Linked DNA regions of Homo sapiens: region 1 is linked to region 2. Evidence: fine-mapped expression QTL. A gene starts in region 2. The other region holds a variant in brackets. All regions are shown on one strand. Distances are between the middles of the regions. Region 1 overlaps ZNF251 (zinc finger protein 251). Region 2 holds the start of ZNF34 (zinc finger protein 34).

Region 1 (2,798 bases), 46 kb after region 2:
CCAGAGGATTTTTAGGGCGGTGACACTAGTCTGTACAGTACTGCAGTGGTGGATGCAAAACCCATAGATCACGCGGCACCACGAGTGAGCCCTAAACTGAGATTTTAGATGGTCATGATGTGTCAGTGTGGGTTCATTCATTGTGACGCTGTTATCACTGTTGCGGGAGGTAAGTAGTGGGGGAGGTGTGTGGGGGGTGGGGTATGCAGGAACTGTGTTTTCTGCTTAATATTGCTGTGAAATGCTCTAAAAATAAAGTATTTTCAAAAAAATCTCATGTTTCCCCAGATTTTCCATCTCTAGTGCTCTTCATCCCTTTCTGATGATCTGAGTTTCTAGCTGGCACCATTTCCCTTCAGCCCAAAGACCTTTGCATTTCTCGTGGTGCGAGTCTGCTGCCCCAGTTCTTAGTTTTCTCGTGTATGAAAGTACCTTTATTTTGCTTTTTTTTTTCCTTTTCCCATTCAGCACTTTAAAGCTGCTATTTTACTCTTTTCTGGCCTCCTTGACTTTCGATGAGGAGTCAGCCATTCATGGGATCACTGGCTCGTGGTGTGTCGTGGGTCACTCTCCTGCTTTTGAGGTGAGCTGCCTGTCGTTTCGGTTCCCAGCAGGTGGACTCTGATGTACTGCAGCACCGGCCTCTTGGTTTTTACTCTGCTAGGTGTTCATATAGCATCTTGATCCTGTAGATTTCTGTCTTTCATCAAATTTGGGAAATTTTTGACCATTATTTCTTCACATTTCTTTCTGTACCATTCTCTCTCTGGTCTCCTGAGATACCAATTATAAGTGACCATTTGAATTATCTAACAGATTTGTAAGGCTGTTTATTATTTTTAAAATATTTTTATCTGTATTCTTCAGATAATTTCTGTTCATCTCGATTCAAGTTGACTTACTCTTTCCTTTATTGTGCCCATTCAGCTGTTAGTCTGTCAAGTAATGCTTTATTTCAGAGATTGTGTTCTTCAGTTCCAGAATGACTGTTTTATTCCTTTTTATTATTTCTGTGTCTCTGCTGAGAGTTTTCACTCCCTGAGATTTTCCTGTTTTGTTTTACTTCACTGAGGATAATTATAATTCCTGTTTTTAAATCCTTGTCTGTTAGTTTCAACATCTGACTCATTTCAGGGTCAGATGGTTGATTTCCTTTTCTCACAAAAACGTGCTCTATTTTCTTGGTTCTTTATGTGTTTGTTAATTTTGGAGTGGAGACTGTGGATTCTGTATGTATGGGTGTATGTGTATCTGCATCGTGTGTATGTACATGTTTACGCATGTGAGTGTGTGTGAGTGTGTGTATGAGTGTGTGTGTACATCTGTGCAGCTGGTCACCAGCATGTACCTTCACAAGTTAGATTTTGCTGGCATATCCACGAGCTGTCACCACTGTGCCCTGGGCACTGAGCTTTCTGAGGCTTGTGTGTTGGCCTGTCCCAGGGCTCTGCCATCGTCAGTATTGGCCCCACTCACAGATGTTCTTTCCTGGGTTGGGCCAGCTCCTTTTGGACACTTTTGAGATCCACCTCGGGCCC[G/A]TCTGCGTTTGCGATGCTGCTTTTCTGTGGCTCCTTCCGGCTACTGGGACTGTTCCCTTCTGGCATTGCCTTCGGCAGCACTTCGAGGAACTCAGCCTCCAGGGCCTCCTGTTGTCCTTGAAAATGCAGTTTTATTTCATTATTTTTATTTATTTATTTTTGGGGGTTTTTTTTTGTTTCTTTTTTTTTGTTTTTTGAGACGGAGTTTCGCTCTTCTTGCCCAGGCCGGAGTGCGATGGCGCCATCTCAGCTCATCACAACCTGCGCCTCCCAGGTTCAAGTGATTCTCCTGCCTCAGCCTCCCGAGTAGCTGGGATTACAGGCACCTGCCACCACGCCCAGCTAATTTTGTATTTTTAGTAGAGATGGGGTTTCACCATGTTGGTCAGGCTGGTCTCGAATTCCTGAGCTTAGGCAATCTGCCCGCCTCAGCCTCCCAAAGTGCTGGGATTACAGGCGTGAGCCACCATGGTGGCCTATTTTTATTTTTTTTTGAGATTTAGTCTTGTTTTGTTGCCCAGGCTGGAGTGCAGTGGTGCCATCTTGGCTCAGTGCAACTTCTGCCTCCCAGGTTCAAGTGATTCTCCTGCCTCAGCCTCCCAAGTAGCTGGGATTACAGGTGCTTGCCACCATACCCTGCTAATTTTGTATTTTTAGTAGAGACAGGGTTTCACCATGTTGGCCAGGGTGGTCTCGAACTCCTGACCTCAGGTGATCCACCCACCTCGGCCTCCCAAAGTGCTGGGATTACGGGCATGAGCCACTGCGCCCAGCCTGAAAATGAAGTTAAAACACAACAAAACTTCATTTTGCTTGTTTGTATTTTTCTGTTGTTATTATTTTTGAGACGGAGTTTCACTCTTGTTGCCCAGGCTAGAGTGCAATGGCGCGATCTCGGCTCACAGCAACCTCCACCTCCCGGGTTCAAGCCATTCTCCTGCCTCAGCCTCCGGAGTAGATGGGATTACAGGCATGCACCACCACACCTGGCTAATTTTGTATTTTTAGTAGAGACGGGGTTTCTCCATGTTGGTCAGGCTGGTCTCGAACTCCGGACCTCAGGTGATCTGCCCGCCTCGGCCTCCCAAAGTGCTGGGATTACAGGCGTGAGCCATGGCACCTGGCATGTATTTTTCTGTTGTTATTTTTGTGGTTTCCTGAAGAAGACATGAGAAGATTCAGAGCTAAACTTTGTTCCCACTGGGACCAGATAATGAAATGCTTTTTTTTTTTTTGAAACAGAGCCTTGCTCTGTCACCA
Region 2 (2,798 bases):
CCAGACCACCCAAGTCCCTTCACCCACCCACCCAGAGCCCTACACTGGACTGGAGCTGGCACCAGCAGTAGGTTGGTCTGCTCCTTGAGTCCTGTAACTCCACAGCTTCGCAGGGCATGTAGCCCCCTCTTCCCTGGGGCAGAGAAACTAACCAGGAACAGCCCCCAAAGCTGCATTGATTACCTTAAAGCACATGGCCTTTCCCTGCTGGCAGGGGCTGATACTTTGGTTCTCTCTAGCTTTGGTAGTGATGAGGCTGACAGTGATGATTGAGTGGAATCAGGTTGGAAGTGTTGGGGAACCCCCCCTGCAATGGGAGGGCAAGTAAGCTGGTTTCCGTCACAAGGCAGAGTGGAGGGGCTTCCTGTTTGGCCATAGCCCATGGCATCTTGTCCCTTAACCATGATCCAATGAGGAGATCCCAGGACAGCATCCTATCAGCACTTTCACACGAGGAAGTTCCACCAGCGAATGCAGCAGCTGCAGATCACTGCCCCTAACAACACTCCTGTGGAACTGCAGCAGGCAGGATGAGGCACGGTCTCTCCCTATAGACTTGGTTGGAGGGTGCCTGGCAGGTGAGAATAGTCACCTTAGGCTTCCGTGGTCACTCCGGGATGACAAGTCCTAACTGGCTGCGCGGTGGTTCCTGGCTGTCATGGTCCACGCTGTCTCTAGAGAACCTTACCCCCCATTTCGTGATCTTGCTTTCCTGATCCTGCTGGTATGGCCCCACCTGTCTTTGGGCGCCCACCACACCTAGGCAGTGACCCAGCAGGGCCTGTTTATTTTAGACAGGCTCTCGCTATTGCCAGGCTGGTCTCAAGCCCCTGGCCTCATGTGGTCCTCCCACTCCAGCCCCGCCTCCCCGCCAGTAACTACGGGACCTGGTTTTGATCTCGTCATTCGCAGGGCCGGTCCCAGGGTCCCAGCTGACTTGTCGAGAAAGAATCCAGGAGGGCGGTGTTTCCTCCTGAAGGATGGAGGGGCATCTGGAAAGAGGGTTTTGGGAAAGCACTAGATGCTTAGCTTGGCCATAAGCGGTCACTGTTTTTCTGCTCCCTTCTGGGCAAAGTGGACGGCAGGGCTTGGCCGATGGACCGGCCATGAGGGAAAGTTTGTTCCAGAAGCAGCTCAGGCACCCGAAAAACCCTTTCTCCAGAGTGGACACTGGGCCCCATTTACAGGAGTTAAGGATGAGGAGCAATAGGTTAAACCCAAGACAGGCTTCTTTGGCCAGTAAGCATCCTTTCTTGGCCCTAAGGAAGGGTGCGGTTCCCGTTTCTCTGTAAATCGAAGGGCCTAGTTCTTGTTTGCGGCGCCTTTCGTGCATCATTAGGGAGAGAATTTCTCAGAAAAAGGGAAAGACTAATATGTTTTCGCCTCTGACCATCGCCCCAGTTCTGAGGCCTCTGGGCCGTGGCTTCGGACTGCCACCCGGTGGCAGCATTCCCGCTTTACGGCTTTGCCATTCGCGGGTCCCCGGAGCCTTACTGCAAGCCAGGGAGGTGGGCAGCCGACACGCGGCGTCCTAGCTTCCCAGAGCGGCCCGGACGGCGCCTCGGACCCAGACAGTCGGCTGACGTCACTTCCGGATCGGTTCCGATTGGCGGGGAGGGAGGGCCGAACGGGCGAGGTTGGGCTGCCGTGCTGCTCGGCGGCGCTGAGGTGAGTGTGAGCCCGGCGGGGGCGGGCGCGCGGGGCGCAGACCCTCCCGGCGCAGACCCTCCCCTGCGCGTTGCCCCTGTGCCCGGTCCTCTCGCGGTGCTGCAGGCGTGGGTCCGTCCCGCCATCAGCGGCACTTCCTGTTCGAGGGACCCCCCGGACAAGGCCCCGAGTACGGACTGCGCCTCGCCGCTCTCTGCCAGCCCTGGGGTCGCTCCTCACGGGGCTCCTTCCGCTCTCGAGCCCCTGACAACTCCCTTGCCCCACGCGGGGTCCCCTGGACTCCTGCCGCACAGAGCGGCTTCTGCGTCCCGATGCGCTCCAGACCCCTTGGTCCCAGCGGCCCGAGGCTTCCCATCCCGGCTCCCTCCCACGCTCCTCTCCTGTCAGCTTTTCAGGGGCGGGGCTCGTGCGTCTCGCGGTCCTCCCAGCCCTCTGCGAATGCCGCCCCTCCTGCCTTTAGCGTCCGCGCTCCGCCAGTGCTCCTCCCTCTGCTTGTGCCTTCCCTCCGCCCCACCCTCCTCGCTTCTGGCGCTCCAAGGCTTTTCTCCCCGCAGCCAGGCAGCCAGATTTTTGTTTCTCTTCTTTATTTTTTCTTTCTTTTCTTTTCTCTTCTCTTCCTTCTTTCCTTTCTCTCTCTCTTTTTCTGAGACGGAGTCTCGCTCTGTCGCCCAGGCTGGAGTACGATGGCGCGATCTCGGCTCAATGCACCTTCCGCCTCCCGAGTTCAAGGGATTCTCCTGTCTCAGCCTCCCGAATACCTGGGATTACAGGCGCCCGCCACCATGCCCAGCTAATTTTTGTATTTTTAGTAGAGATGGGGTTTAACCATGTTGGCCAGGCTGGTCTCGAACTCCTGACCTCAAGTGATCTGCCCGCCCCAGCCTCCCAGAGTGCTGGGAATACAGGCGTGAGCCACTGCGCCCGGCCTCGTTTTCTTATATCTCTACAAACCTAATACTGTTTTTGTCTCTTAAAAATCTACATATGTATGGCAGAGCACGGTGGCTCACGCCTGCAATCCCAGCACTTTGGGAGGCCAAGGCGCGGGGGGGATCACTAGGTCTGGAGATCGAGACCATCCTGGCTAACCCAGTGAAACCCCGTCTCTACTAAAAAATACAAAAAAATTA

The links. PIP is the estimated chance that this variant, and not a neighbour inherited with it, causes the effect. A credible set is the group of variants that fine-mapping cannot tell apart.
Region 1: its variant is the best candidate, but not a certain one, in a credible set for the expression of ZNF34 in blood mononuclear cells (TOPMed, PIP 0.85).

What each region holds. Positions count from the first base shown.
Region 1 is chr8:144,739,870-144,742,667 of GRCh38, reverse strand. All of the region lies in intron 4 of ZNF251 (zinc finger protein 251), which reads left to right. All of the region lies in intron 1 of LOC107986986 (a long non-coding RNA gene), which reads right to left. Among named protein-coding and RNA genes, the nearest start is that of ZNF251, 14 kb to the left of the region's middle. The variant G/A (reference allele first, on the strand shown) is at 1,539.
Region 2 is chr8:144,786,149-144,788,946 of GRCh38, reverse strand. It overlaps ZNF34 (zinc finger protein 34), which reads left to right and starts at 1,630. Exons shown (of 6, transcript NM_001286769.2): 1 at 1,630-1,668. RefSeq lists enhancers at 1,062-1,121, 1,162-1,391 and a silencer at 1,542-1,901.